Linked DNA regions of Homo sapiens: all the other regions are reported to be linked to region 2. Evidence: microRNA targets listed by miRTarBase, many of them from high-throughput screens and not tested one by one. Region 2 holds a microRNA gene; each other region holds the end of a gene's coding sequence. Distances are from middle to middle.
What was found. The annotated mature microRNA hsa-miR-526b-3p reads GAAAGUGCUUCCUUUUAGAGGC and lies in region 2 at 870-891, shown strand. An mRNA with a match to its seed (bases 2 to 7 or 8) in the 3' UTR can be bound and repressed. Matches are read on the target gene's strand: a 7mer-m8 pairs with bases 2 to 8, a 7mer-A1 pairs with bases 2 to 7 and ends in A, and an 8mer does both.

Region 1: the mRNA of PDRG1 is a reported target of hsa-miR-526b-3p. Seed matches in the 3' UTR shown: 7mer-m8 at 1,142-1,148.
Region 3: miRTarBase lists TRIP10 as a target of hsa-miR-526b-3p. Seed matches in the 3' UTR shown: 8mer at 2,529-2,536.
Region 4: miRTarBase lists RUNX3 as a target of hsa-miR-526b-3p. Seed matches in the 3' UTR shown: 8mer at 1,422-1,429 and 7mer-m8 at 2,748-2,754.
Region 5: the mRNA of DNAJB13 is a reported target of hsa-miR-526b-3p. The part of its 3' UTR that is shown has no 7-base or 8-base seed match.
Region 6: miRTarBase lists AKAP11 as a target of hsa-miR-526b-3p. Seed matches in the 3' UTR shown: 7mer-m8 at 354-360.

Annotation. Positions count from the first base shown.
Region 1 is chr20:31,943,394-31,946,393 of GRCh38, reverse strand. PDRG1 (p53 and DNA damage regulated 1) reads left to right here. Exons shown (of 5, transcript NM_030815.3): 5 at 505-2,057. The coding sequence ends at 587. TTLL9 (tubulin tyrosine ligase like 9) reads right to left here. Exons shown (of 15, transcript NM_001008409.5): 15 at 1,394-3,000. Among named protein-coding and RNA genes, the nearest start is that of PDRG1, 7.2 kb to the left of the region's middle.
Region 2 is chr19:53,693,574-53,696,694 of GRCh38, forward strand. It overlaps MIR526B (microRNA 526b), which reads left to right and starts at 820; the gene lies at 820-902. It overlaps MIR519B (microRNA 519b), which reads left to right and starts at 1,640; the gene lies at 1,640-1,720. It overlaps LOC107985342 (a long non-coding RNA gene), which reads left to right. Exons shown (of 3, transcript XR_007067332.1): 3 at 456-1,049.
Region 3 is chr19:6,750,698-6,753,818 of GRCh38, reverse strand. It overlaps TRIP10 (thyroid hormone receptor interactor 10), which reads right to left. Exons shown (of 15, transcript NM_001288962.2): 15 at 2,289-2,756. The coding sequence ends at 2,608. It overlaps SH2D3A (SH2 domain containing 3A), which reads left to right. Exons shown (of 10, transcript NM_005490.3): 9 at 178-363; 10 at 1,066-1,659. The coding sequence ends at 1,226. Among named protein-coding and RNA genes, the nearest start is that of TRIP10, 13 kb to the right of the region's middle. RefSeq lists silencers at 1-69, 240-419.
Region 4 is chr1:24,899,673-24,902,793 of GRCh38, reverse strand. RUNX3 (RUNX family transcription factor 3) reads left to right here. Exons shown (of 5, transcript NM_004350.3): 5 at 128-3,121. The coding sequence ends at 672. Among named protein-coding and RNA genes, the nearest start is that of MIR6731, 18 kb to the left of the region's middle. RefSeq lists enhancers at 397-466, 547-616, 947-1,396, 2,164-2,213.
Region 5 is chr11:73,969,660-73,972,780 of GRCh38, reverse strand. DNAJB13 (DnaJ heat shock protein family (Hsp40) member B13) reads right to left here. Exons shown (of 8, transcript NM_153614.4): 8 at 2,500-2,820. The coding sequence ends at 2,667. Among named protein-coding and RNA genes, the nearest start is that of UCP2, 12 kb to the left of the region's middle. RefSeq lists an enhancer at 2,336-2,495.
Region 6 is chr13:42,318,894-42,322,014 of GRCh38, reverse strand. AKAP11 (A-kinase anchoring protein 11) reads right to left here. Exons shown (of 13, transcript NM_016248.4): 13 at 1-2,927. The coding sequence ends at 2,787. Among named protein-coding and RNA genes, the nearest start is that of AKAP11, 48 kb to the right of the region's middle.

The sequences.
Region 1 (3,000 bases), not on the chromosome of region 2:
CCGGGGCAGCCTGTGAGTGGCCCTGGAGGTGTGCACAGTGGTTGGTTGTAGCTGCCCAGGGACAGAATGGACAGGGGGACTTCTACAGTCCTAGTCCTGTCATAGTTTCTTTTCCAGGTCCCAGGAACCGCTTGGGGTGATCTCACGTTATACATCGGGGCATGGCATGGGGATCAGATAGCTCTGACTGAGGAAACTCAGAAGGCTTCAGTGAGTGAGTGAGGTCAGAGCTGAAATTCTTGATAAATGCAAGCACTCTAGATTGGTCACAGGTCTTGGAAAAACCTGAGGTTCTTTGGGCAGCAGAGTTACGCGTTTGCAGGCTCTTGGTGACACAGGAGCAGTGGTGATGCCTCATCTGGTGCATTGCAGAATTGGAGGCCCATCCCTGCCAGACCTCCAGGCTGAGTTTGGCAGCATTAGTGCAGCGTCAGCCCCTTTCCTGGGCCTGGCTCCAGAGCCAGCAGGAGGCCCGACGTGCTGATGGATCATCTTCTCTCCTAGGCAAACCGGAGCTGAAGGGTTTTAACTTGAACCCCCTCAACCAGGATGAGCTTAAAGCTCTCAAGGTCATCTTGAAAGGATGAGACTCAAGAACCAAGATGGGGGACCAGCAACCCCCCAGGGTCATGGAGGACCCAGGACCCTCCAACCTTGACACCTGTAAGGACAGGATCTGCCCTGTAAGGGGCCAGCCGTCAGGAATCTGGCCATGAAAACCTCTTTGTAGTGCTTGGCTACTCTGTGATGGCAGGAGGGAACCTTCAGCCTGTCTGGCTGCTGGACCTGGACACCAGGGCTCGGTGGACACAAGATCTATTGACGGGCCTTGGTAGCCACCAGTGGGTGTGTGGGGCAGTGGCTGTGGGGGTGTAAGAATGACTGCAACAGGCACTTCCCAACAATGGCCTGCTGTTCACATGGACCCTGAGCAAGGAAGGAGGGAGGGAGGGGCAGAGTGGAGTGTCATTCCAGCATTCCTCTCAGAAGGGAGAGAGGTTTTCAGGCTGGTGCCATGCGATTGGAATAAAGCAGGAGGCTCATGGGTGGTTGCTGAATGAAGAACAGAATCTTGGTGCTTTGTGGCTCACCACAGCCATCTGTGGGGCAGGCACACACACCTCCCGCCAGCTCCAATTTTGCACTTTTTCCCTGCTTGATTCCAAGAGTAGGTGCTGCCTAGCAGCCCTTCGTGGCCACTCTTTACTCAGGAGGGCCTTGCAGAGTCCTGCACCAGGCCTGGGTGAGTGGATGCGCCTCTTACCATATGACACGTGTCAAGATGCCCTTCCGCCCCCTCTGAAAGTGGGGCCCGGCCAGCACTGCTCGTTACTGTCTGCCTTCAGTGGTCTGAGGTCCCAGTATGAACTGCCGTGAAGTCAAAACTCTTATGTGTTCATTAAGGGCTCAATAAATGTTAGCTGAATGAATGAATAGCAGCAACTAGTCTTTATTTGCCTCATCTAGTCCTTCAGTAAGGGCACGCCACTCCATTTAGAATACAACCTATGAACATGGTTCTTGCCTTGAAATAAACCTGTGATTTGACAGGCGGGTGATAACAAATGGCAGCATGGCAGGGGCACACCTCTCCTGGTCCCCCCGCTCCTTGGCTCTGGCTCATAGTTACATAGAAACACAGGCTGTCATGGCCAGTTCTTACGTGTTTTCAAGAGAAGCTAGACATATGGGTTGTGAAGTTGAATCTCCTTTTAAATATTTTTGACTAATGCAGAAACTTTTAAAACATGAGTGTGGGTCACAGGTGTTAGCTCCAGATAGTGCAATACCATACAACTATAATCAAGAATAAGGAACAAGCTCCAAGATACATCAAGTGAGGAAAGCAAGGGGAAGGCTGGTGTCTTATAAGCTAATAATTTTTGTGCAAGCACAGTGTGATTCCCTCAGAACAGCACCTGCAGGGTTGGGGCGCACAGGTGGGAGGGAAGGAGATGTCACCCTATACCCTTTTGTAAACTTTGGATTTTAAACCGTATGAATATATTGCTTATTTTAAAATGTAAATAAAGTAGGGAGTTGCAGAATTCACCTTGCTAGATGTTGTCCAGTGTGACTGCCTGATTCACAATTTCATCACTGGAAAATTGCCCCTTCCTCCCTGGCAGGGTGGGTGCTGGGCCAAAAAAAGCTAATCGCATTCCTTCTGGAAATAGGGAACCTGGAGTCCATGCCTGGACCTGTCTGGGTTGGTGTGCCTCAGGTACAGGGATGAGTGGGAGAAGTCCTCATGCTCTGAAGGCAGAAGGTCTAGAGTAGCCTGGCTTCTGGCTTTCCTAAAGTCGGCTGGTTCACTTCTTGGATTTGCCAGTATTTTCCTTCCAAAAGTCTTCCCTTCGGGCTTGACCTAGGCAGGCAGATTCAACCATTTGCAGCCAGAGAAACTACTCTGAAGCAGGCGGAGTGGTAGAGGGAGTAAGTCCCCCCTGGAACAGTTACCCCAACAGCCCCGAGTCTTGTTGCAACCCCTCTTAAACCAAGAGGAAGCTTAGCAATGTAAGATGTGAAAAGGCAGATTTTTACTCACACTCAACTCCCGAAGCTGTCCTGCCCATGAGCCCAGGGTTTTCCGGTTTCTGGCTCAGCTCCCAATCTCAAACACAAGGCCTAGAGAAGCACTTAAGTCACCCATCTGACTTAGATAAATGCACCTTTGCAGAGACCCTCACTAAGCTCTGCCTCCCTGGTCTGTCTTGTCCATCTGAGAAATGGGGATGCCCTGTCCCACTGGTTTTCAGATGATGGTCAGGGAGCCCCATGGGCTCCCCTGACATGCAAGGAGAAGAGGATGTGTTTAGGGCTCAGTACTTCCCCAGGCCCCCAATAAACACACAATCTAATAACTGCTTGCTGTGTAAGCACAGCTTAAAGACGAGTTCCTTAGCCTCCAAACTCTTGCTCCTGAAGGACCTTTTCAGCACTGACTTGGGAGGTATCCAAGTGTCAAAGCCAGGAGGACTTGGCTGCAGCCAACAGTAT
Region 2 (3,121 bases):
TTCTAAACACAGAGAATACTCCGATATCACCTAGGGTGTGTGTGCGTGTGCGTGTGTGTGCGTGTGTGTGTGGTTCTTTTCTGAGACAATATCTGCCTCTGTCACCCAAGATGGAGTGTGGTGGTGCAATCTCGGCTTACTGCAACCTCCACCTCCCACCTAAGCCTGCTGAATTAGTCTCTACAGGCATGCACCACCACACCTGGCTAACTTCTGTAATTTTTGTACACATGGGGTCTCGCCATGTTGCCGGGGCTGGTCTCGAGCTCCTGAGGCAGGTGATCCTCCTGCCTGGGCCTCCTAAAGTTCGAGGAGTTAGAGGTCTGAGCCACTGGGCCCCACTTGTACTTGTGTATTTCTGCTCAAATTTTATTGAGTAGTTTTTACATCCTAGCCTGTGATCTACTCTGGAGAGTGTTTGTGCATATGACAGTGTATATTCTTCAACATCGTAGACTCCATTTTGGATGCTCCCTTCGTGACTGTGGGTCCTGTACTGGAACTCGAGTGAACACTTGGCTTAAAATCCATTGCTGTTCTCCAGAAATCCTGCCCAATTTTCTCGGTTAAAGGTACGTGTAGTAGGCATTGCTTTTTCTCTTTGGGGACAAAACTCAGGAGGATTGCCCCTTGATGAACAAGGCTAACCTGCTGATTCTTTGAAGCAAGGAACTGGAGATGGTCCTTATAGAGTTTTATATTCTGGATTCCATAAAACATGCATACAGGGTCAATAAATGCATCTTTATTTTTGTGTCTATTTTAACTTGGTCAAAGAAAATTCCAGGAAAAAATCCACGGCATCAGAGCAAGAAGATGTCAGGCTGTGACCCTCTTGAGGGAAGCACTTTCTGTTGTCTGAAAGAAGAGAAAGTGCTTCCTTTTAGAGGCTTACTGTCTGAGAAAAGCAACGTTGTAGTTGATGCTGATCTTTGTAATATCTTTGCAGAGCACGCTTATAATCAGACTTGGATGATGTTGGGGTTTTGTTTTTCTTTTGTTTTTTTATCTAAGACTGGGTCTCTGTTGCCCAGGCTGAAGTGCAGTGGCACAATCTTGGCTCACCACAACCTCCGCCTCCCGGGTTCAAGTGATTCTTCTGCCTCAGCCTCCCAAGTAGCTGGGATTATAGGACTGCGCCACCATGCCTGGCTAATTTTGTATTTTTAGTAGAGACAGGGTTTCTTTAGGAGCTTTTAAGGCCTCCCTTGTAGTCTATCCTGGAGGATGTTTGTGTGTGCAACAATGTATATTCTTCAACATGGTAGATTCCATTTTGACTGCTCTAATCAGGACTGTGTGTCCCTGTGCTGGAAATCAAGTGAACACTTGGCTGAAAATCCACTGCTGTTCTCTAGAAATCCAGCCCAATTCTCTTGGTTAAATATAAGGTATGCATAGTAGGCATTGCTTTTTCTTTCTGGACACAAAACTCAGGAGGATTTCCCCTTGATGAACAAGGCTAACCTGCTGAGCCTTTGTAGGAAGGAACGGGAGATGGTCTTTTTAGGGGTCTATGTTCTGGATTCCAGAAAACATGCAAACAGAGCCAATAAATAGGTCTTTATTTTTGTCTCTATTTTAACCTGGTCAAGGAAAATTTCTACAAAAAACCCAGGGTGCTGGAGCAAGAAGATCCCATGCTGTGACCCTCTAGAGGGAAGCGCTTTCTGTTGTCTGAAAGAAAAGAAAGTGCATCCTTTTAGAGGTTTACTGTTTGAGGAAAGCAACAGTGAAGTTGATGCTGATCTTGGTAATACATTTGCAGAGCATGCTTATCATCAGACTTGGATGATGGTGGGATTCTGTTTTTATTTTGTTTTTTTTTCTAAGACAGAGTCTCTCTTGCCCAGGCTGGAGTAGGGTAGCACTTCCAACGTAGATCTTTTAGGCTCAAACGGTCCTCTTTTTTTTTTTTTTTTTTTTGAGGCGGAGTCTTGCTCTGTGACCCAGACGAGAGTGCAATGGCGCGATCTTGTGTGCAAGCTCACCTCCTGAGTTCAAGCAATTCTTCTGCCCCAGCCTCCCAAGTAGCTGGGACTACAGGTGCCTGCCACCACTTCCAGCTAATTTTTGTATTTTTAGTAGAGACAGGGTTTCACCACGTTGGCCAGGCTGGTCTCAAACTACTGACCTCAAGATCCACCCACCTCAGCCTCCCAAAGTGCTGGGATTACAGGCGTGGGCCATTGTGCCCAGCGGTCCTCTTTTTTGAGATGGAGTCTTGCTCTGTGACCCAGGCTGGAGTGCAGTGGCAGGAACTTCGCTCCCTGTACCCTCCACCTCCCAGATTCAAGCCATTCTCTCCTGAGTCAGCCTCCCTAGTAGCTGAGATCGCAGACATGAGCCACCATACCCAGCTAATTTTTGTATTTTTATTATTTATTTATTTACTCATCGATTTTTGAAACAGAGTCTTACTCCGTCCATCAGGCTGGAGGTCAGTGGCACAATCCCACGTTCAAGCAATTCTCCTGCCTCATCCTCCCGAGTAGCTGGGATCACAGGCGCACACCACCACGCCCGGCTAATTTTTGTGTTTTTTTTGTTTGTTCGTTTTTTTTTTTTTTGTAGAGACAGGGTTTCAACATGTTGGCCAGCCCAGTCTCCAACTCCTGACCTTAAGTGAGCCCATACACAATCAAGAAGAGAGCGAGACCTGTTCTTTTTTTCTGTCTTTGACTATTTGAGACAGTCTTGCTCTGTCACCCGAGATGGAGTACATTAGTGTGATCTTGGCTCACTGCAACCTCTGCCTCCTGGACTCAAGCAATTCTCTTTTTTTTTTTTTTGGAGAAAGAGCCTCTCTGTGTCTCCCAGGCTGGACTGCAGTGGTGTGATCTCAGCTCACTGCAACCTCAGCCTTCCAAGTAGCTGGGATTGCAGACATGTACCCCCATACCAGCTATATATATATATGTATTTTAGACACAGTTTCACCATGTTAGCCAGGCCATTCTTGAATCCTGACCTCAGGTGATTTGCCGACGTAGGCCTCCCGAAGTGCTGGGATTACAGGTATGAGCCACTGCACTCAGCCTTTTTTCCTAATTTTGAATATGGGACCCATTATGAATTTGGGTGTCACCTATGTGCGGGGGCTATGGAAATCTCTGTCACC
Region 3 (3,121 bases), 47 Mb from region 2:
CTACGCCCCTTCGCCATAGGCCCCGCCCTCCATACGGGGCGTGTGGTCCTGGCCCCTCTCCACAGACCCCGCTGTCGCTCAGTCCTAAGCCCCGCCCCTGCATTTGTCCTAGGTTCCACCTCTGCCCTATGCCCCATCTACAGCCCCAAACCCTGATCAGACCCTCCCCCTCCGCAGGACCCTGCGACCCCGGCGAGGTGGCGCTGCCGCACGTGGCACCCATGGTTCGCCTACTGGAGGGCGAGGAAGTCGCGGGGCCGCTGGACGAGAGCTGTGAGCGGCTGTTGCGCACCCTGCACGGGGCGCGTCACATGGTCCGGGACGCACCCAAATTCCGCAAGGTGGCAGCCCAGCGCCTGCGAGGTGAGCGTTCCCTCTGCGCTGGACTGCAGACTTCAGAGCACCCTGCAGGTTCTAACCGGATCCCCCAAACCCAGCCTGTCCCAGGAGGGGAGCCTCTCGCCACGCCTCCCGGAGCCCCACCCAAACTGGGACGGCTCCACTCCAGGAAGGTTCTCACCCCAAGCAAACGCTGCATCCAGCGGTATTGATAGGAACAGGGCCGTCCACCTCAAAACGGGCTGTCCTGCCCCCAGAGCCACCTCCGCGGGTCCCCACTCCCCCTTCCCACCTAAGACGATCCCGTCCCCCAGGGATCTCGATCCCCAAGAACGCCCTGCTCCCTCCAAAACGACTCCTCCGTCCTATCCTAGGGCAGCCCACCCGGCAAGATCCCCCCACCTTCCCCGACAACCTGGGATCCCGTCCTCGGGGCAGCCCCACGTCCAGGCACAGCCCCTAAGGCGGGACCTCCAGGATCTGGCACCTGGAACAGGCCACCCCATTGCACTGCGGTAGAGCCCCTCAGGCACCCCACCCCCATTCCTGCAGAGAGCTGGAAGCCCCCTCCCCTCTGACCCCGCCTAGTCATCCCGCAGGTGGGGCAGGTCCCTCCCGGGCCCCTGTTGGGTCAAAGTCCTCTGGGGAAAGGAAGGTGCCGGGAGGTTGGGAGGGGCGAGGCGGGCGCCTGGGCCCCGCCCCCAGCCCACCTGACCTTGCTTCCAGGATTCCGGCCTAACCCGGAGCTGAGGGAGGCCCTGACCACCGGCTTCGTGCGGAGGCTGCTCTGGGGTAGCCGGGGCGCGGGAGCTCCGCGCGCTGAACGCTTTGAGAAGTTCCAGCGCGTCCTCGGCGTCCTGTCGCAGCGCCTGGAGCCTGACCGCTGAGAGCGCAGACACCCTTCTTCACACCCGGGACCCCCAGGTTTTTGCGAACCCCAGAAGAGACCAAAGGAGTCGTCCCAGGCTCCTCGCGCCTCAGGTGGAATCCTGCCCTGTGCCTCACAGAAGAGGTGGGGACCGCAGTCAGGGTCACCTGGACCATGGTGAACATGTGACCTGCAGATCTGGCATCAGAGGCCAGAGTTCAAATGTGACTCCACCTCTTAAAAGCCGTGATTTCTAGCAGTTGACTTCACCTCTGTGTCGGCCTTTAACAAAATCATAGCCATACAGCAGCTCAGGCCTGTAATCTCAGCACTTTGGGAGGCCGAGGCGGAAGGAAGGCTTGAGGCCAGGAGTTCAAGACCAGCCAGGGCAACATGGTGAGACCTCATCTCTACAAAAACTGAAAAATAAAAAACTTTTAAAAAATGTAAAAGTTGAGGCTGTGTACTTTCTAAGAATTGTGGCCAGGAATGAGACCCCAGGTGGAGAATGCCTGGCACACAGTAGGTCTTCAATAAGTGCTACCCATTCTCAGAAGCTGCAGTGCATTCAGAAGGGATGAAACTTGGGTGTCCTGGCCAGGTGCGGTGGCTCACGCCATAATCCCAGCACTTTAGGAGGCCGAGGCAGATGGATCACTTGAGGTCAGGAGTTCAAGACCAGCCTGGCCAACATGGCAAAACCCTGTCTCTACAAAAAATACAAAAATTAGCTGGGCATGATGGTGTGTGCCTGTAATCCCAGCTACTTGGGAGGCTGAGGCAGAATTGCTTGAACTCGGGAGATGGAGTCTGCAGTGAGCTGAGATCACGTACGCCACTGCACTCCAGCCTGGGCAACTGGGTGAGACTGTCTCAAAAAGAAAAAAAAAAGAAACTTGGTATCCTTCTCCCTACCTGAGTCACAAGCAGACACCCACTGACAATGACATAGGCCAACTTCCAGAAAGGGGCAGGGTTGACCCAAGGTGTGCCCAAGATCACCTCCCCTTCCTCATTCCCTGTGTGGCCTGTAAGAAACGTGGTGTTAGATACTTCCAGTCCCAGTATTTAAATCCTCTAATAAGACACCGACTCTAGGAACTTTATATAATTTCTTTTTTTTTTTTCCCATTTTTGTATAAAACAAAATGGCCGGAGCCGAGCGGCAGAAAGAAAAGATGTAAAACATGAGTATGTACATCAATGGTGGAACGATGGTAGAAGGCACAGCGGGTCCGTCCGGTGTGACAGGTAGGACTGGGTTGGGGGTGGAGGGGGCAGCAGGTTACACAGGTCTCAGCCGAAGCCACGGGGTCAGAAATAAAGTGCATAGGTCCTGGGGCTCCCCGTGGCCCAGAAGCAGCAGCCGACAGCCCCCCTCTTCCCGTCTCTGGCAGGGTTCAATTGAGCGTGACTCGGAGGTAGGAGGTGGGCACGTAGCCCTCGCCTCCCTCTTTCCGCCTGACCCGGGTCCAGCCGTCCCCTTTGTCTTCTTCCATAAGACTGAGGTCTTCACCCTCGGCCATAGAGATAGTGCCCTCGCTGGACCCTGTGATGGGGGTGGGGGTGGGCCCAGATCTGCTTTAGGCAAAATTTATTATTTTTATTTTTTATTTTTGAGACAGAGCCTCGCTCTCGCCCAGGCTGGAGTGCAGTGGCACGGATCTTGGCTCCCTGCAACCTCTGCCTCCAGGTTCAAGGGATTCTCCTGCCTCAGCCTCCCGAGTAGCTGGGATCACAGGCGTGCGCCACCACACCTGGCTAATTTTTGTACTTTCAGTAGAGATGGGGTTTCACCGTGTTCGCCAGGCTGGTATGGAATTCTTGACCTCAAGTGATCTGCCTGCCTCAGCTTCCCAAAGTGCTGGGATTACAAGCCTGAGCCACCCGCCCAGCCCTGCTTTAGGCGAATTT
Region 4 (3,121 bases), not on the chromosome of region 2:
GAGAGCCAGGTCTAGAACTAGGGGTCCCCCAGATGGGCCTTGGGAACCAGAGCCCAAGGTCATTCTTCAGGAAGCCCTCCTGGGGTTGTCTCGAGCTGGAACTGACCTCTTCCCTGCTGTCCTCCAGGCACCTCGGAACTGAACCCATTCTCCGACCCCCGCCAGTTTGACCGCTCCTTCCCCACGCTGCCAACCCTCACGGAGAGCCGCTTCCCAGACCCCAGGATGCATTATCCCGGGGCCATGTCAGCTGCCTTCCCCTACAGCGCCACGCCCTCGGGCACGAGCATCAGCAGCCTCAGCGTGGCGGGCATGCCGGCCACCAGCCGCTTCCACCATACCTACCTCCCGCCACCCTACCCGGGGGCCCCGCAGAACCAGAGCGGGCCCTTCCAGGCCAACCCGTCCCCCTACCACCTCTACTACGGGACATCCTCTGGCTCCTACCAGTTCTCCATGGTGGCCGGCAGCAGCAGTGGGGGCGACCGCTCACCTACCCGCATGCTGGCCTCTTGCACCAGCAGCGCTGCCTCTGTCGCCGCCGGCAACCTCATGAACCCCAGCCTGGGCGGCCAGAGTGATGGCGTGGAGGCCGACGGCAGCCACAGCAACTCACCCACGGCCCTGAGCACGCCAGGCCGCATGGATGAGGCCGTGTGGCGGCCCTACTGACCGCCCTGGTGGACTCCTCCCGCTGGAGGCGGGGACCCTAACAACCTTCAAGACCAGTGATGGGCCGGCTCCGAGGCTCCGGGCGGGAATGGGACCTGCGCTCCAGGGTGGTCTCGGTCCCAGGGTGGTCCCAGCTGGTGGGAGCCTCTGGCTGCATCTGTGCAGCCACATCCTTGTACAGAGGCATAGGTTACCACCCCCACCCCGGCCCGGGATACTGCCCCCGGCCCAGATCCTGGCCGTCTCATCCCATACTTCTGTGGGGAATCAGCCTCCTGCCACCCCCCCGGAAGGACCTCACTGTCTCCAGCTATGCCCAGTGCTGCATGGGACCCATGTCTCCTGGGACAGAGGCCATCTCTCTTCCAGAGAGAGGCAGCATTGGCCCACAGGATAAGCCTCAGGCCCTGGGAAACCTCCCGACCCCTGCACCTTCGTTGGAGCCCCTGCATCCCCTGGGTCCAGCCCCCTCTGCATTTACACAGATTTGAGTCAGAACTGGAAAGTGTCCCCCACCCCCACCACCCTCGAGCGGGGTTCCCCTCATTGTACAGATGGGGCAGGACCCAGCACGCTGCTGGCAGAGATGGTTTGAGAACACATCCAAGCCAGTCCCCCCAGCCCAGCTTCCCCTCCGTTCCTAACTGTTGGCTTTCCCCCAGCCGCACGGGTCCCAGGCCCCAGAGAAGATGAGTCTATGGCATCAGGTTCTTAAACCCAGGAAAGCACCTACAGACCGGCTCCTCCATGCACTTTACCAGCTCAACGCATCCACTCTCTGTTCTCTTGGCAGGGCGGGGGAGGGGGGATAGGAGGTCCCCTTTCCCCTAGGTGGTCTCATAATTCCATTTGTGGAGAGAACAGGAGGGCCAGATAGATAGGTCCTAGCAGAAGGCATTGAGGTGAGGGATCATTTTGGGTCAGACATCAATGTCCCTGTCCCCCCTGGGTCCAGCCAAGCTGTGCCCCATCCCCCAAGCCTCCTGGGAGGATCCAGCCAAATCTTGCGACTCCTGGCACACACCTGTCTGTAACCTGTTTTGTGCTCTGAAAGCAAATAGTCCTGAGCAAAAAAAAAAAAAAAACAAAAAAACAAAAAAAAAACAAAACAGTTTTTAAAACTGATTTTAGAAAAAGAAGCTTAATCTAACGTTTTCAAACACAAGGTCTCTTACAGGTATAGTTCCGTGATTATGATAGCTCTGTGATTATAAGCAACATCCCCGCCCCCTCTCCCCCCCGCGGACCCCCAGCTGCCTCCTGAGGGTGTGGGGTTATTAGGGTCTCAATACTTTCTCAAGGGGCTACACTCCCCATCAGGCAGCATCCCACCAGCCTGCACCACAGGCTCCCCTGGGAGGACGAGGGAAACGCTGATGAGACGCTGGGCATCTCTCCTCTGTGGCTCTAGGACATCTGTCCAGGAGGCTGGGCGGAGGTGGGCAGGATGTGAGAGGTGGGGAGTACTGGCTGTGCGTGGCAGGACAGAAGCACTGTAAAGGGCTCTCCAGCCGCAGCTCAGCTGCACTGCGTTCCGAGGTGAAGTCTTGCCCCTGAATTTTGCAAAATGGGAAAGTGGGCGCTTGCCCAAGGGCCAGGCTGCATGGATTCTCACATCAGAGTTCTCTGGCCCTAGAAAGGCTTAGAAAAGGCGTAAGGGAACTCATAAAGGCTAGCAGCATGCGGTATTTTAACTTTCTGCCTCGGCCTCTGTGGATGCAGAAATCTGCCCTACAAAATGCTCTTCATTGGTTGTCTCTGTGAGAGCACTGTCCCCACCCAACCTGTCACAACGGCCAGAACCATACACCAGAGACACACTGGCAGGTTAGGCAGTCCTTCTGGTGATCCTATTCCATTCCCTCCTGCTGCGGTTTCTCTTGGCCTGTCCTCACTGGAAAAACAGTCTCCATCTCCTCAAAATAGTTGCTGACTCCCTGCACCCAAGGGGCCTCTCCATGCCTTCTTAGGAAGCAGCTATGAATCCATTGTCCTTGTAGTTTCTTCCCTCCTGTTCTCTGGTTATAGCTGGTCCCAGGTCAGCGTGGGAGGCACCTTTGGGTTCCCAGTGCCCAGCACTTTGTAGTCTCATCCCAGATTACTAACCCTTCCTGATCCTGGAGAGGCAGGGATAGTAAATAAATTGCTCTTCCTACCCCATCCCCCATCCCCTGACAAAAAGTGACGGCAGCCGTACTGAGTCTGTAAGGCCCAAAGTGGGTACAGACAGCCTGGGCTGGTAAAAGTAGGTCCTTATTTACAAGGCTGCGTTAAAGTTGTACTAGGCAAACACACTGATGTAGGAAGCACGAGGAAAGGAAGACGTTTTGATATAGTGTTACTGTGAGCCTGTCAGTAGTGGGTACCAATCTTTTGTGACATATTGTCATGCTGAGGTGTGACACCTGCTGCACTCATCTGATGTAAAACCATCCCAGAGCTGGCGAGA
Region 5 (3,121 bases), not on the chromosome of region 2:
AGCTGGGAACAGTGGTAGGAACCACTGGAAAACATACCAGTGGGTCTCATTCATTCTGATCACAGGTAGATCACTTCTCTTTGGTTCCCAACCCTTTAATGCCTATTAAGTGGGCAGATGATAAGCCCTGCTTTGCCTAATTCAAGGTAACACTGAAGATCACTAAGGTAATAGGAATCTCCTAAGGGACTTTCAGGCCCAAGACCCAGGCTTCCTTCAAGATAAGGAGTAGGCTTTCCTGCTGCCCTACAGGAGACCTAGAGTTGAAGAATTTCACAGCCCTGCCTCTGCACTCCAATTCAGGGCTTGCCCTCAGAACAGGGCAGCTCTCACCATCCCACTCCACCTGAGTCCTGCCCCAGAGCATTTCATGCCTCACCATCTGGTTTCCATGAAAGGCCTGCAAGGTAGGGGCTGTAAGCTTTAAGAAACGGGTTCAGAGAGGTGAAGTGATTTGCCCAAAGGCACACAGCTGGCTAGTAGCACACTGGGGATCCAGAACAGGTGTGTCTGACTCCAAAGCCCACATGCTTTTAACTACTATGCTGAAATGCTTCCTGGAGCCCTGGTCCCAGAGTCTTCACCTCAAGGTCTTTGGGTAGCTGACTTCATGGTGATTTTTTTTTTAATTTTAAGATGGCGTCTCTTCTGTCGTGCAGGCTGGAGTGCAGTGGCAAGATCTCAGCTCACTGCAACCTCTGCCTCCTGGGTTCAAGTGATTCTCCTGCCTCAGCCTGCCAAGTAGCTGGGATTACAAGTGCATGCCACCATGCCCGGCTAATTTTTGTATTTTTAGTAGAGACAAAGTTTCACCATGTTGCCCAGGCTGGTCTTGAACTCCTGACCTTGTGATCCACCCGCCTCGGCCTCCCAAAGTGCTGGGATTACAGGCATGAGCCACCGCGCCCAGCCCATGGTGATTTTTTTAATGACAAAAGTGCTACTGAACCCCCGTTTTAAAAAAAAAACCTTAAGCTGATGTGATTTGAATGGTGGAGTCCCAAGCAATCTGGAGAACATGGGGCCTTTTCTGGCACCTCTGAAGGCATTCCATGGAATTGGCTACCTACTCCCCGTAAGCCTGGATCTATCCTCACCCAAGCTCAGACTCTAGAAGGGAACCTCCCTGGCATGGAAGGGGAGCATAACACACGTGTTGACTATGAGGAGGCAAGTGTGGTCTACGCAGGCCCAGTTGGACCTGGATGCTGGAACTCCAGGCCTTGAGGGCAGCAGTGCTGTTACCCCTTCCTGAATCTAAGCAGTGAGTTCACCAAGCACTTTCACATCAATGTTCTCTGTCCTCACAACATGCCCGTGAGGGGGGTTATGGGCTCTGCTTTACTGACAAGACAGGTGTGGTGACTGGTCCCAGGAGAAAGTGGCAGGGCTGGGGTCAGAACTCAGGTTTCCTGCCTCCCAGATCACCCTGCCCAGGACCCTATCACAGACCAGGGGATTGAGGCCAGAGAGGTAGAACCAAAGCTGTTTCCAGTGCACATGTGTTCTTTATGCTGCTTCTCTACGCAGGGCGAGTCTGTGGGAAGTGACCTTCAAGGTTTTTGGGGGTTTTTTTTGTTTTTTGTTTGAGACAGAGTCTTGCTCTGTCACCCAGGCTGGAGTGCAGTGGCGCAGTCTCGGCTCACTGCAACCTCCACCTCCTGGATTCAAGTGATTCGCCTGCCTCAGCCTGCCGAGTAGCTGGGATTACAGGCCCTCGCCACCATGCCCAGCTAATTTTTGTATTTTTAGTAGAAACGGGTTTTCACCATGTTGGCCAGGCTAGTCTTGAACTCCTGACCTCAGGTGATCCACCTGCCTCGGCCTCCCAAAGTGCTGGGATTACAAGCATAAGCCACCACACCCGGCCTTTCTAGTTTTTTTGAGATGGAATTTCACTTTCGCCCAGGCTGGAGTGCAGTGGTGCAATCTCAGCTCACTGTAACTCTGCCTCCCAGGTTCAAGCAATTCTCCTGCCTCAACCTTTGGAGTAGCTGGGATTACAGGTGCCCACCATCACACCTGGCTAATTTTTGTATTTAGTAGAGACGAGGTTTCACTATGTTGGCCATGCTGGTCTCGAACTCCTGACCTCAAGTGATCCGCCCACCTTGGCCTCCCAAAGTCCAGGCATGAGCCACCGCACCCAGCCACCTTCAAGGTTCTGATGACAGCTTTGCCACTGAGGCCTGAGTGACCTGCAATGAATGTTTTCTTTTGTGCTTTAGTTTTCCTGTCTCTAACGTGACCATATCATGCTCCAGAGATTGTCTCTTCTGTCATGAAAAGCCAGAGCAGAGCTAGAGACCCTCAGAGGCCACACAGCCCTGCCCCACTCTATCAAAGTGGAAGCACAGAGGATCTGAACCCTTACCTGCCCTTTCCCACAAAGCCAGGACAGGGACTCAGGCACTCAGCTCCTTAGGCCTCTTTCTTCCCTGTGCCCCACAAGAAGGGCTAATATGAAGCTCCTCTCCAATGTACTCTCGTGGGTGTAGCTGGAGGACAGGAAATAGATCTTTATTATGTCAGTTTAAGCCCTGCGCCATCCCACCCTTGTATCATATCTGTGCAGCAGGCTCCCCTGCACACCCTGAGGCTGTGGCGGGTAGGGGTGGGGTGAGGCCCGGCTAGCCTCCTCTCACCCCTGCTCCAGCCCACCACAGTCATGTCAGCAATGCCTGGCGCAGCATCTGCTTCTTCTGGGGTGTGAGGCGGGTGGGGAACTGGATGTCGAAGAAGATGAAGAGATCCCCTTTCTTAGTGGGGTCCTCCGGCAATGGCATCCCCTCCCCTGGCACCTTCTTGAAGTATTTGGGGCTGAAATAGGATGAAAGAAAGGAGCATAGAGGGCATCCCAGAGCAGCACCTCAGCAGGTCCCTGTCATATAACCCCTACTCACATAACCCCAGGAAGGGGACAGTCACTGCAGTCTTCACCTGGAGTGGTTCTTAGCCAGAACTGGTTGGGAAAGGAGCTCCCTGAAAACCTGTTTACACTGAGTCTCTGATGGAGGATTCCAGAAACTTTGTTTAAGACATGGGAAACGGGAAGTAAAGGTGAGCAAACCCTGGGGTGAGGGCGAGGGTGCTGGGCTGCCAGGCAAACCTCCTCACGGGC
Region 6 (3,121 bases), not on the chromosome of region 2:
AAAATATACATGTAATTTTAACTTGGTTTAGGAAAACATGAAAGAACTGTCACATTTTGGTGTGAACAAGGTTCTGAAAACCCCCTATCAGAGGTCTCATTCACTTTTTTCCACATATCACTTGAAGGTTTTGAAACTGGTAAAAACAGAATTCAGCTCGATGTACATCAAAACTTTAACAGTTCTGAAAAAGACGTATTTCGTAAGGGCCAAAATGTACAGCACAGCAATATTACAATGTTACAGTATAAATATGTCAAGCCAATTTGTAATAAAATAAGACAGTTGTCTTCAAAAGAGCTGTTTGACTATAGAGCAACCAAATAGATCTAGAACATCTTTGGAAAAACCACAAAGTGCCTTTACAGAAAGTTAAGTTTAGACTACACTTAATTAAAAGATAATACTCTAAACTCAAAATTATTTTCTCTATATGAGGAATTTTGACACTTGTTTTCACACCTGCCAATATTCAATATTTTTAACTCACACTTCTTTTCATACATCTGCCAATATTTAATATTTTATTCTATGCCCCTGCACTGAATTGATGTAAGTGTGAAGTTCCACTATTATTATTACCACACATGCTAATACCTAATAACTGGTCTGTCATTATGTAGTGGTTAAATAAGCAAATGCTGAACTCAGCACAGCTCTAGCAAAATGCAAAGGAAATAAGAAAAGCCTCACCTCAGAATGATTACACCATAAACAGAAATAAACATTTTCAAACACAAAGTTTCACAAAATAATATATCATCACTTTAAAAGAAATTCAGAACTCTATTTTGCTGTTGATCAAACTTGTGCATACACTCAAGTTACTAAACACAATTTGATAGTTAGATACTTGTAAAAATGCATTCTAAACTTAATAATCAATTAATTCATAATTAACAAGAGCAAACATTCCTAGTCCTAACATTTAAAAAAACCCAGTCCAGTGCTGCCACATCTCAAGTTCTGAAAAGCTAAAGGCAGGAACAATTCTGGTTATACAATTCCTGCATTTCTCCACCTTAAAAAATACTTGAAGAAACTTTAGGAAACTTTATATTAAGGCTTGCTGTATTTCTGTATCTTAAATTGAGAAAAATCAAAACCTACGATGTAACCTCGAATTATTTAAATAGCTTTTGGCATTTTTCTTGAAAAGCAAATTTGAATCTTTCACTATAAAACATTTCTATACCACAATTACTAATTCACATTAATGTGTAAGTGCCCTCATTTCCTATTCCCTGGCAGGCGCTATGTCTTCTTTCTACGTTTTGTGCAGCTTTCAGAACAGTCAGTGCTCAGAAAAAATGAAAACGTAATGGAGCAAAATCAAAGTCCCCAAAAAAAGTGATTTATCCTAGATTACAAAATCCAGTAGTGGAAGAACCAACATTTACACACCCAAATACACACACACCCACACATACACAGGACACAGCGAGAGATGAGAGAGAGTGGGGGGTGGGGGAGGTGAGAGACAGTGGGAGGAGGGGGGAGGGGGAAGAGAGTGGGAGGAGGGGAGAGAGAGTTGCAGGGAGGGAAGAGAGAGACAAAAGCAAGACACAACCTTTGTCCTCTATTCATGTCAACTTGCAGTTTCTGGACACAAACTAGTAGGAAATGTAGAGCCCAGAAAGATCGTGTCAGAGAACTTGACGAGACAGTGTAGATATAGTTTATCTGGGTGGGGCGGGGTGGGGGGAAATCCCAATTTTTCTAAAACAAACAAACAAACAAACAAAAAAAACACCACATTCTTGGTAGAGGTTTTTTCAAAAATCCAACAATAAAAACTACTGGGCTTCTCTAAATGCATTTCCATATTAACATTAATTTTTAAAATTTCAACATGTTTTACAATTTAAGTTTTCACTTGTAAGATAAGTTGGGAACCCAAAATTGTCAAAAAAAATTTTAATTATTGTCAATAAAAATTCTTACTGCACAATCTTTATAGGCGTTTTATTTTAAAGCACCTTTTTAAATTTTAACAGTGGGTTTCTAAAAAGAAAACAGTAAAATAAAAGAGGGAACAAACTGGCAAGGTTAAAGTACTCCCTTACACACACACACACACACACACACACACACACACACACACACACCTTTCATGCCAGAATGACTGGCAGCATTGGCAAATAATGTCAATGAAAGGATGGGGGAAACTATCACTTATAGTGTTTATAGAAACCTAAAATACTAATGTTTCTGCTAAGAAATTAAATAGTTTGGGGAAATCAAAAAGCTACCAATAGCTGATCTATGAAATATGAAAATGAAACTGATTTTTAAAAACAGGAAAGGCCAAAAATCTACTAGAAATTTTTAAAAATCAGCCTCAATTTTATTTTCTGATGTCAGACTAGTTATTAATTAGATACCATTTGTTTGCAAAGGAGCAAAATTATAACTCTATCACTGGAACCTATCCTCAGCCACTTCAGTGCAGTTTCTAGCAGCACTATTTGGATACAAAAAGAATGTGGTCAGACAATGCCCCTGAAAACCCCCTGGTTAGACCTTCCTTCAAATACATGTTCTTAGGGTCTTGACACACTACACATGTGTATAGAAGAATAAATGAAGGTAGTATTTTGACAGATTACAAAAGTATGAACTATATACACCGAGTGATAACACAAAGCGCTCAGAAAGCTATATTTACTTGCCTCCCAACTGACTTACGATGTTAATATTCACTATTCAAATTTTATCCTAAACATCTTTATTGGCTTGTTCCCCTCCCCAAACAAATACTAAAATATACTGGTTTGGGGTTTGCTCTATGCATTTTCCAAGAGCCAATCAAACAGCGACTTGCATCTCTCCTCACTGGAAGCTTTTTCCATCACTTCATAGTATTGAAGCACAGCCTGCAGGAGGTCTCCCACTTTCCATCCTTTCTCTTGTAATTGTTTTGAAAGCTAAGAAAGAAAGATGTGTCAAACATTAACCAAAAACAATTTTATAACAAAGCTTTTATTTTTATTTTCAATATTAGCTGAAACTTAAGAATCCTGCTGTTTACAATTAAATACCGTTTCCTAGTTATAACAAGGTCTTCCCCTCTAAACCGCTACCCCTTTACCCAAATTAAACATTTTCCCTTCTTCCCCTT